3 linked regions of the Homo sapiens genome follow. The protein of the gene in region 3 interacts with the protein of the main gene of each other region in a pairwise test. Each region holds a gene or a part of one and is shown on either strand. Other genes may lie near its edges. The genes, in order: ARL16, CFAP206 and GLYR1.

The links.
Region 1: the proteins of GLYR1 (region 3) and ARL16 interact in binary tests that used the Homo sapiens proteins (3 or more experiments, as listed by UniProt).
Region 2: the proteins of GLYR1 (region 3) and CFAP206 interact in binary tests that used the Homo sapiens proteins (3 or more experiments, as listed by UniProt).

Annotation. Positions count from the first base shown.
Region 1 is NC_000017.11:81,682,086-81,685,834, forward strand, and holds the start of ARL16 (ADP-ribosylation factor-like protein 16), read right to left. Parts: upstream 1,713-3,749; 5' UTR 1,669-1,712; coding exon 1,608-1,668; exon of another isoform or gene 1,510-1,607; coding exon 1,451-1,509; intron 1,042-1,450; coding exon 928-1,041; intron 591-927; exon of another isoform or gene 158-590; coding exon of another isoform or gene 65-157; coding exon 1-64. Other genes in the region: HGS (hepatocyte growth factor-regulated tyrosine kinase substrate), read left to right, coding at 1,982-2,018, 3,520-3,604. UniProt on the Homo sapiens protein: May suppress the RNA sensing activity of RIGI in a GTP-dependent.
Region 2 is NC_000006.12:87,459,879-87,463,627, forward strand, and holds part of CFAP206 (cilia- and flagella-associated protein 206), read left to right. Parts: intron 1-1,143; coding exon 1,144-1,287; intron 1,288-3,749. UniProt on the Homo sapiens protein: Essential for sperm motility and is involved in the regulation of the beating frequency of motile cilia on the epithelial cells of the respiratory tract. Required for the establishment of radial spokes in sperm flagella.
Region 3 is NC_000016.10:4,812,605-4,816,353, forward strand, and holds part of GLYR1 (cytokine-like nuclear factor N-PAC), read right to left. Parts: intron 2,044-3,749; coding exon 1,933-2,043; intron 1,352-1,932; exon of another isoform or gene 1,235-1,351; coding exon 1,133-1,234; intron 1-1,132. UniProt on the Homo sapiens protein: Cytokine-like nuclear factor with chromatin gene reader activity involved in chromatin modification and regulation of gene expression. Acts as a nucleosome-destabilizing factor that is recruited to genes during transcriptional activation.

The sequences.
Region 1 (3,749 bases), on a different chromosome or scaffold from region 3:
GGAGACCTAAGAGCTGCACACAGGATGCAGAGAGCTGGGTGGGGTCAGAGGCGTCCATCACAAACTGGGGAAAAAGAAAAAGACAGCAGCAATGCCCCGCTGCCAAACTTCCTCCCCTGGGCCTCACAGACCTGGCACTGGGAGAGCAAAACTGCATTTTTTAATTAATTAATTTATTTTTTGAGACGAAGTCTCGCTCCGAGTGCAGTGGCACGATCTCGGCTCACTGAAACTCCGCCTCCAGGGTTCAGGGTTCAAGTGATTCTCCTGCCTCAGCCTCCCAAGTAACTGGGACTACAGACACCCGCCACCACGCCTGGCTAATTTTTTGTACTTTTAGTAGAGACGGGGTTTCACCATGTTAGTCAGGATGGTCTCCATCTCCTGACCTCGTGATTCGCCCACCTCAGCTTCCCAAAGTGCTGGGATTACAGGAGTAAGCCACCGCGCCCGGCCCAAAGTAGCTTTAAACAAAGCTTTGGGAACAAGCAGAAGCAGAGGGAATCGAGTTTTATGAAGACGACCTGGTGTCACTCGTCTCTGTCCTCATGTGGCCATCAGTTCTCCATACTGGTATCCGCGGCACAGGCCTTATCAAGATGAGACCAACCAGAGGTACGTATAAGTCCAACATAAACACAGACGTACCGGGGAGTGACACAGAGGGCCAAGTCTGTTCTCTGCGGAGCAGCAGCCCTGCCCTCAGCAAGCCCTCTGTGAGCTCCTACCGGGGGCCTGGGAGCGCAAGCACCAGAAACCAGACAGGGTGCCCAGCAGGAAGCAACACTAGCTAAGACCTATTTCCATGAGTAGTATAGTCACTAAATAACCCAAACCCCTTTCTACACACAGCAAGGTTGGGGACTGGACGTCACAGAAATGTAGACACACTTCCCTAAAGGAAGCCCATATAGGATTACAACCCACCAGGAGAGAACGGCAGTTTCCATAGTAACTGGACCAGATGGGGCCCATGCACCCCCCAAGCTCCCGGATGGTGATCTTTCTCTGTGCCACGATGTCAGTAAGATTGGTGCCCACCTATAGGAAAAACCACGATGCAAAAAGAACAATACAACCGCTGTCCCGTTGTGAACTCCTGAAGAGCACCGTGCCCACACCTTACACGGTGGCCTGAACCCCGCAGACCCATTCTCCCTAACGCAGGAACGGCGAGCAGGGACCGACGCCCATCAGTAGCTGGACTCGCTGTGGGGGCGACCAGCCACAGGAAGCCGTTGCGAGGGGAGAGGAAGTGCCCGTGGAGGGCGGCAGGCCCCCTCATCCCGCGCCAATTATCCTCAGCTCGGGCCGTCCCCCGCTCCCGAAGGCTGGCCTTAAGTCACGACCTGACCCGCTGCGCCTCGGCGTGCACTTAGAGGAGCCCGGAGCTCTTCGCCAAGCGCAGAACTGACCCCCCGCAACTCCACCCGCGGGGGCGGACACCTACCGTGGGCCGTGTCGGGGGCGGCTCCCCCAGGTCGCCTTTCCCATCCCGGGAGCTCACCTGTGCGAAGCGGTCAAGGACCCGAGCAGCTAAAGGGTGAGTCCCCGCCCCACTCCGGGTGCCCCCCGCGCCCCGGTCCCGTCCCCGCGCGGAAGGATATCCTGCAGCCGTTTCACCAGCAGCGTCTTCCCGACGCCCGTGGCCCCCAGCAGGAGACACATTCCGTGCTTCGCTCCACCCGGCACCCGTAGCTCGGCGCCGCGGCTCAAGGCCCGCCCACCGGCCACTCTCATTGGATAGTTCTCACCTTCGGACTTCTCATTGGTTCTTAGGGCTCATTGTTCCAAGGGCGCGTCCAATTAGCGCGCAGCGTTAGCGGGAGAGCGGAAGACCCCGCCTCCTCGCGGCTCTAGGGCCGGCGCGGTGACGTGCGCGTGCGCGCACTGGAGGGAAAAGGCGGAAGCGGAAGTCGGGGGGCGCGCCAGCTCGTAGCAGGGGAGCGCCCGCGGCGTCGGGTTTGGGCTGGAGGTCGCCATGGGGCGAGGCAGCGGCACCTTCGAGCGTCTCCTAGGTAACGCGTCCCCACCCGACGGCTCGGCCTTGGTCAGCCCGCAGCCTCCGCCCGGCGCTGAGTCAGCGCGGCCCCGAGGGCCCGAGGGGCGCGGACCGGCCGCCCTGCCCGCCTCTCCCCGGCCCGCTGTCCTCCCGGGTTCGGAGCCGCCGATCCTGGACCCTCGGCGCGGCCGTGGGGTCGGCGTCCGTCGGGCGTTGGCAAATGGGGCTCTGCGAGGGTCCGCGCAGGGCGCCAGGGGCGCTCGGCGACCTCGCTCCTCCGCGGGCCCGGGCATTCGGCCGATTTCCTCTTGACCGACGAGCACCCGGCCGAGTGGGCCACAAGGCCTGAGTCATGAAAGTGGGTGACTCAGTCGGATGTTAGGCTCGCACTTGGGCTTCTGACCCAAAACACTGGGCCTCGAAGGGTGGAGCCGGCAGTGTTCTCTCTGGGACCTTCGAGCTCTCTTGGGGGCTGCGGGTCCCAGACCCACCTTTTGTTCCCACACTGGCTTCGGGAAGTGCCTAATGGTTTAGGAAGGCGTTTTCTCACGTTTTTGGAGGTGAAAGCTGATCCTATCTGAGCCTCCTGGAATTGACGCGTTTTGGGAGGGAAACGAATGTTGATGTGCACGTGCCCAGCAGCACGTGGAAAATGCGTCTAATGTTTGGGGGTAGGAGCTTGGGTGGTCGAATGGGCTGCCCAAGCTTGCCTTTTTGTCAAGTAGGGTTTTCAAGGAGACTTCAAGTGAGACACCTTCCTTGCCAAGGGAACCAGCAAGCAGACTGAGTATCTCAGCCACACAGGTAGTTCAGTGCTTCAGGGATGAATCCAGAGGTTAACTACTGAATCAGTATAGAAAGTGGACGTGGCTTGGCTTGTTAGATCGTTTCTGTATCCGGGAAAGGCGATGTGGGCAGAGCTGGAGCTGCCCCCCCAGAGGGGCCAGTTGTTGGAGACAGCAGTGATGTGGTATGATGACAGGTATGCTGGCGAGTCCTCCTTGGAGCCCCGTTCTGCCCTTATTTCCAAAGCACTTGGCTTGGAGCAAGGGGCCTGGAGTCTACACTGCAGGCCTCTCTAGCCCTTGCCCAAGCTAAGGTCCCATTGAAACCGGGAGCATCTGGGCGAACGGGGACTCCAAGGGACGGGTGATAGGGTTCTTTGTTGAGAAGCAGCCGAGCCTGATGTTTAAGAGTGAATCAGCCTCTGTCTCTGGTGAGCTGTGTGACTCACGGCAGTGCCCTCGCCTCTCTGCTGAGTGTCTTTACCTCGCTCGCGGGTTGTGGGAGGGCTTGGACCAGCACCTGGTGTGCTCTTACGCTGTTTGCTGCTTCCCTGGGGAGGATGGCACTTCCCTGCCCATCAGCACGCTCAGGAGGATTCTGTCATGCTTTTTCATTTGGTCCAAATGTCTAAAGGGGAAGGAGAGAGTCCCCCCCAGCTGCTGCCAAGCTGGGGTGCTGCACGGGGCGTCCAGCAGGATAACCCCTCCCTTTCATGGCATTTTCTCTCTCAGACAAGGCGACCAGCCAGCTCCTGTTGGAGACAGATTGGGAGTCCATTTTGCAGATCTGCGACCTGATCCGCCAAGGGGACACACAGTGAGTTAGCGGGGCCTGTGCCCTGATGCGGAGGAGCAGCCGTGCACTAAGCTGGGCTCGCTTGGTGCCCGTTGGGTCTCCACGACGTAGCTGACCGTGTTAGGCTCTTATGTGGAGAACTGCATGGGCTACATGCTAGGATTTT
Region 2 (3,749 bases), on a different chromosome or scaffold from region 3:
TCTTTCTGGATATTTAATTCCCACCTGTTCTTCAGTGACCTTTAATATCTGCAGAAATGAGTTTTATCTCTGTCTTTTTCATGTAGTCCTTGCTGTCTAATTTACTTGCCATTTACTTGTATGGTACAGTATTATTAACTATCTTTTTAGCATTTTTAAAATCTACCTAAATATATCATAAGATAATTTTATAGTCAGAAATTATATCAAATGTTAGACACTCAGTGATTATCTGTTGTTTGGAAAGAATATCTTCTCCCTCCTTTTTACTGTGACCTAAGTACCTTAAACCTCTACCACTCCCTCCAACAACGTCAACAATGTCATGTCCAGCACCATCATGTCTTGTTTAGCCTGGAATTAGTGAATTCTTAATATTGGGTTCCCCAAAAGAAAATCAGTATATTCAACTAAAAACAAAGCAAAAACCTTGGATAATAACCTGCTATGTATGCATAGCTTGAGTTCAACATATGTCTTAAAGAGGTTTTGATAGTTCAAATAGATGTGATTTTTACCTAATAAAGCTATTTTCAATTTCTATCCATTTTCAACAGGTATTTACTCATGTTATCAGTTGTGCAAAGTGGGGAGGGATATTTGACTTGGGAATGAGGGATGTTTTCTCCTTCCAAAATACATGTTCTACAGAAAACCAAACACTGCATGTTATCATTTATAAGTGGGAGCTAAAAATTGGGTACACATGGACATAAAGATGGGACCAGTAGACACTGGAGACTGCAACAGTGGAAAGAGTGGGAGGGGGGCATAGGCTGAAAAATGAACTAGTGGGTACTGTGGTCACTACCTGGGTGATGGGTTCAATCCTGCCTCGAATCTCAGCATTGTGCAATATACCCTTGTAACAAACCTGCACATGTGCCCCCTTGAATCTAAAATAAAAGTTAAAAAAAAACACCCCCTACATTAACAAAATCACGAAGCCATAATTCCCAGAAAAACAATTATATTCAGCTCATTAATTATGTGTTTATTTTCTTTATTGGTATTTACAAGTATATTCCATGTCCAAAAATTATTGTTTTTTAAGTGTTTTGTTAGTTTTAGCTAAATATTTTAGTTATCAGTAAATAATGTTTATTTTTTACAAGCACTAACTACAAAACTCCACTTCTTTAGATGAGAGATGCTGACAAACATTATATAAAACCAATTACAAAATGTGAAAGTAGCACACAGACGAATACACACATACTGCCACCAACGATTGTGAGATCATATGAGTGGAATGAATGGGAATTAAGAAGAAAAGCTATAAAATTGGTTTGTAACAATACTTTCTAGAATTATTTATATGTTGGGGAATTTTAATCTATTGTTACTCATAGAGTTGGTAAATTAAATTATTTATATAAAATAATGAGTTTTATACAGAGTTCTTTGCTAACAAAAATATAATTTATAACTTGCTAGGTTTACATTATAAGATTGTCTTCTAATTTTAAGCATATATAGAACAATGATAATATCTATATATCTATCTGTCTATCATCAGTTTTAAAACTTGGTGCTAGTATTTAAAGCACTCCCAACTTCCTTTAATCACTTAAGGTATACCATTCTTTTTTTTGTTTGTTTTTTGGACCTTTTCTATTAAAGCATAGATATTTTCCCCTCAACAACATATTATCTCCAGACCCTGGGCACTCTCATCCTTCTGATTCTCAGTCACCTTAATTACAATATAGATACCTACCCTTAAAGCCTGTCTTTGAAACTCTCATCCCTGTCCAACTGAGTGAAATTACCCCCACCATCCCCTCTTTATGGTATCTTGTCATTTTAAACAACAAATATTTATAGTATGGAAAAAATAAAATATTTTGTCTGTAGCCCCTTTTTAGTATATTTTATCCATCTCTTTAACTGAAATCAGGTGTGGAAATAAACAATGCCTACCCAAATGAGAACAAAGCAAGGCTATTTATTTAGAGCTTACTGTAGCAAGGGAGTCAGACACTGTCACTTGTGTTTGGTAGACTCAAAGCATGCAGGGGAGTGGGAAAGCTTTATAGTCAGAAAAGGGGGAAGCCTTCAGATGTTCTCTGATTGTAGTTTGTTAACATGAGAAAGCTGGAAGCAGGCTAACTAGAAGCAGGGCATTTTATGAGATTGGTTTGGTGAGCATATCTAGGTTTCTCTGGTTGGTCCTGAGTTGGGGCAGAAGGGGCCAAAAAATGGAGAAGTTGGCTAAGTCTTCAACATTCTGGGTCAACTGCTACAGCTATAGAGGTTGAGACTGGCTTCCCTGACTGGTTGATGTACAGGCTGCAAGTCAAAGAGTTCTATTGTCATATATGGTCTAGCCTTTGTCCATTTGTATATTCAGTCCATTTGTATATTCAGTCCCACTGACCACATTATTTCCTTTGCTACTCACTCTGGTGGCAGCTTTTCAGTTCCCTGGCATGAGGAAGGATCAGTTTCCCCATATATCTTCCAGATCATTGTTCCATTAGTATTCCTTCCTATCAGTTACTCTCCTGTAGTTCATGAAATGCCCAACCCCCATATTATTTTCTATTATCTACTAAACTCACTTGAGTTCATTAGATTTATTGGGTAACATATATATCCCACTACTTTGTTCTAGCAAGTGATACTGTTACATTAAAAATATTTCAGTACCTCCTTGTAAGTGGTACCTCCTTGTAAGTGGTGTAACAGAAGTGAAATGAAAATTCTACTAAATTAACATAGGTGATATTTTATGTTGCTTTTGAGATACAAATAGGCAAAGAGGAGGAGGGAAGTGATGGCTGGATAGGATAGGAGAGATAGAGGTGACAGCATAGGTATGGACTGGAAATGTTAAGAGAATGGGGTATTCAGGGGTCTGAACTTCATACTGACTGAGCCCTCTCTTCCCATTCCTCAATCTCCACTTAATTCTGACTCTCACCTTGGGCCTTATTATTCCCTAGAACTGTATTATATTGAATGCCAGCTCCCCAAGTGTCACCTACCTAACCTGTGGATAAGACAAAGCTGAGTTTATTGCTTACAGCCATAAGGGAAAACACCACCTCAACAGTGCTTTGGCAGTGTCTCAGAAGAGGAACTGCAAAGTCAGAATTGATTGAGAATTTGAAGTTTGCTAAGGCAGGTCTTCCAATGACTGAGGTGGACTGGGGGTAGGATGGAGGTTTGAATCGGATTGGGTAAGGATCATGAAAAAGCAGTCCAGCATTGGTGGGAATAGCAAGAAGATTTTTTGAGGCAAGGGATGCAGACTCTTAGGACTGAAACTGTGTTTTGATGCTTACTACTGAAGAGTTGACACATCTCTCAGGTACTACTGAAATGAGCAATCAAGTTATTTGCTTAGGCAAGAGTCTCTTGGAATGGTAAAATCATGCTAATGAAGACAATGGAATAGTAAAGTCATATTAATGTGGACAATAACCTGGGTATTGGGGAGTAGTTTCGGTTCTCAGTCACCTGCAGTATCTCAAACTCTGAAATGTTTCCTCTAATTCCAGGTGTCACCTTCTTCACTCACATGCTATAATGCCTTTTGAGTTTTTTCTTGGCTTTTACTATAAGTGCAGCAACCTTATTCTTCTTTTTATAAGCTCCTCCTTGCTTCCCAGCCTGAGTAATCTGTTTAACCTCATGTTTACTAATAATCTATAAAGGGAGTAAGCAAAATGTAGAATACTGTAAAATACAAAATGGAAAGCATCAGACTCTTTTATGTTAAAAATCTAGGGTGAAGTCCATTT
Region 3 (3,749 bases):
GCCTCAGCCTCCCGAGTAACTGGGACTACAGGCGTCCACCACCACGCCTGGCTAATTTTTTGTATTTTTAGTAGAGACAGGTTTCACCATATTAGCCAGGATTGTCTTGATCTCCTGACCTTGTGATCCGCCCGCCTCGGCCTCCCAAAGTGCTTGGATTACAGGAGTGAGCCACCACGCCTGGCCGGAATTTTTTTGTTTTGTTTTTTTGAGACAGAGTCTTGCTCTGTTGCCCAGGCTGGAGTGCAGTGGCGCAATCTCAGCTCACTGCAAACTCTGCCTCCCGGGTTCATGCCATTCTCCTGCATCAGCCTCCTCAGTAGCTGGGACTACAGGCAACCGCCACCATGCCTGGCTAATTTTTTTTTTTTTTTTTGAGACGGAGTCTTGCTCTGTTGCCCAGGCTGGAGTGCAGTGGCACGATCACAGCTCACTGCAAGCTCCGCCTCCTGGGTTCATGCCGCTCTCCTGCCTCAGCCTCCCAAGTAGCTGGGACTACAGGTGCCCGCCACCGCGTCCGGCTAATTTTTTTGTATTTTTAGTAGAGATGGGGTTTCACCGTGTTAGCCAGGATGGTCTCGATCTCCTGACCTCGTGATCCGCCCACCTCGGCCTCCCAAAGTGCTGGGATTACAGGCGTGAGCCACCGCGCCCGGACTGGAATTTCTTAGAGACCAACAACTAGAACCAGATGTGACCATGTCAATGGCTCGGCTGAACACACACCTCCCCTGTGGATGCTGCCCTCCCCTCAGAACATATGTGGGTCCCAAAGTCCCCACTCCCTTATTTGGGCCAGATGCTCGGGGAGGAGGGATGCTTTGCCAGTGTCAAATGCAGACAGCTGCTCAAACCCCAATGCCAGGCGGGCGGCCTGGGTTGCTTCTCATCATAAGGCTGGCAGCTCCAGGACTTGATGCCCATCCCAGCCATGCAGCGACTGCCCATGGCTGTTCAGACTAGCTGCGGTTTGAAGGTGGAGCACGGGATAGGCTAGTCCCAAGGCTACTCGCCTCTCCTCTTCCCTCTCTGGCTTTGGCTCTAGAGTAACTTAACTGCCCACTCTTGTAAGCCTGGGTCTTGGGCTCTGATAGAAAAGATGCTGGAGAGCCAGCCCAAGGAAGGCTGCTACCTGGGCCAGCTCAGTGACGGTGTCAGCGTCCACTGTTGACATGTCCACGTAGCACTTCCCAGGGCGGATCCCTTGCAGCACACCACTGGGGCCCAGCACCAGCTGTGGGGACACAAGGGAGAAGCAATAGCCCAGGCTCCCGGGCAGATGCTCAGGAGCCCTACAGACCTCAGATCAGAATCCTGCTGCTGTTTTGGCTCATTTCCTGATTTCTATCAGCTGAAAAGGGAAGAACAATGAAATAAGCAAGGGATAGAAAAGTACTTCCCGCATGCTCCCATTTATCTTTAAAAAGAATCTATGTGAGTGTGTGCATTTCTTTTTATTTAAAAAAAAAAAAAAACAAACCCCATTTAAAAGAATAAACCTCAGCATTTACTTTGGGGACTTCTTTGGATTTACTTGGATTAGGCTAGTCACCAGTTTAATAAGATGACTACCACACTTGAACTTCTAAAATATACAAATACAGTGACAGCTAAACATAGAAGCTTGGCACCTGGACCAAAGGCACATTCAGTTCCAAAGCTTCTAGTTCAACAAGAACACATGAAGCCTGTTCAAGACACATTTCAGCACAGACTTCAAGGGCCCTAGTAGTGTTCATTCTTTGATCTGAATTAAAGGAAGTCTGTATTCAATTAATGCAAACACCCTTCACAATGGGAGATGGCCCCTGATGGGAAATTCAGCCCCCCACATGTGGACACTCACTTGGTGTGCAGGGGAGGAGGGGAAGAGGCCAGCCAGCAATCCTGGCTGTGACCCGGAGTTGCTGAGGGGAGGGAGGGGGTCCTTACGTCCTTGGCCGCCTTGGGATCCGACACGCAGGCGAAAGTGATGTCGCAGGTTGAGACGACTTCAGCGGGGGTTCTTCCCAGACGGGCCCCCTCCTGGATGAACAAATCACACTGCAAAAGTCACAGATCCTAACGTGAGCTGCAGGCAGTGCACAACAAACATGCCAGCCAGGCCAGAGAATTGCTGACCAGGCCTCCTGGCGGCCTACCAAGGCAGGAGGCTGAGGCCGGGAGCCTGGGTCATGGAGATAGGAGCCCAACTTTTGGGGAAGTGCACGGGGCCTTTTACTGGCCATCTTCAGTTTTTGCATGACGAGTGCCTAGGATGATGAACTGCTTCACAAGTGTCTGCTGAAGGTATGCTGTTTCAAGAATGGGGTATGAACAGTAGCACCTCTCCCCAGCCCCCGCTGTGCTGTCCTGGCTGTGGCCCTGAGCTATCAACACTCTGCTGGGAATGTGGGGATGTCGCTGGAAGCCTTCCACCTGGTGGCCATTCGTTTTTGGGTTGTTTCTCAACACTGTTGTCAGGTTAATAAGACTTCTGGAAGTGCCTAAAAACACTACCATTTTGGCTTTTTTTTTTTGAGACAAGGTTTTGCTCTGTCACCCAGGCTGGAGCACAGTGGTGCAATCATGGCTCACTGCAGCCTCAACCTCCTGGACTCAAGTGATCCTCCTGCCTCAGCCTCCTGAATAGCTGGGACTATAGGTGCATGCCCCATGTGTGATTTTTTTTTTTTTCTGTAGAGACAGGGTTTCACCATGTTGCCCAGGCTGGATGGGCCTACTATTTTCTATCAGACTTTTAATGTTGTTTATGATTCACATTTATCTATATTGTTGTCTTTCATAATTCTGGCATAATTATGGTTTATAGTGGTTGACTATGGAAAACTTCACTGAGAGATATACTGTGATTTACCTAATGGCTGACCTGTAGTTTGACACTTAGCCCACTTTCAATTGTAAAATCACATCACCAAACATCTTTACGTACAAAACTTCTCTATGTTTTAAATTCAGGTCTCCACAAATAGAATAAAACAGGTTCTAAAAGTTTTAAGGCTCTCAACAAATGTAGACAGATGACTTCCCAATGAGACTATGTCACTTCATAAAGATCACCAGCAAGCTCTCCTATTATGCCAGTACCAAGTATGTAATTTAAAAACTACAAATAAGTGCCCATAAATACATGTAAAATTCTTCCTACCTGATCATTTAACCAGTCAAAAAAGGCAACTGTTTCATTTTTTTTTTTTGAGACAGAGTCTCGCTGTCGCCCAGGATGGAGTGCAGTGGCACGATCTCAGCTCACTGCAAGCTCTGCCTCCCAGGTTCACGCCATTCTCCTGCCTCAGCCTCCCGAGTAGCTGGGACTACAGGCGCCCGCCACTGTGCCCGGCTAATTTTTCGTATTTTTAGTAGAGACGGGGTTTCACCGAGGTCTCGATCTCCTGACCTCGTTATCCCCCAGTCTCTGCCTTCCAAAGTGCTGGGATTATAGGCATGAGCCACCGCACCCGGCCTTGTTTGATATATTTTAATTACTCCTGATTACCGAATATTTTTTATGCCTTTGTTTCCTCTTTTGTGAGCCATTTTTTTGTCCTTTTTCTTTTCTGAGACAGGGTCTTGCTGCTGCCTAGGTGGGAATGCAGTGGTATGATCACAGCTCACTGCAGCCTCTACCTCCTGGGCCCAAGAGATCTTCTGGCCTCAGCCTCCCAAGTAGCTGGGACTATAGTAGGCAGGTGCCACCTCACTCAGCTAATATTTTATTTTTTGTAGAGATGGAGTCTCATGTTGTCCAG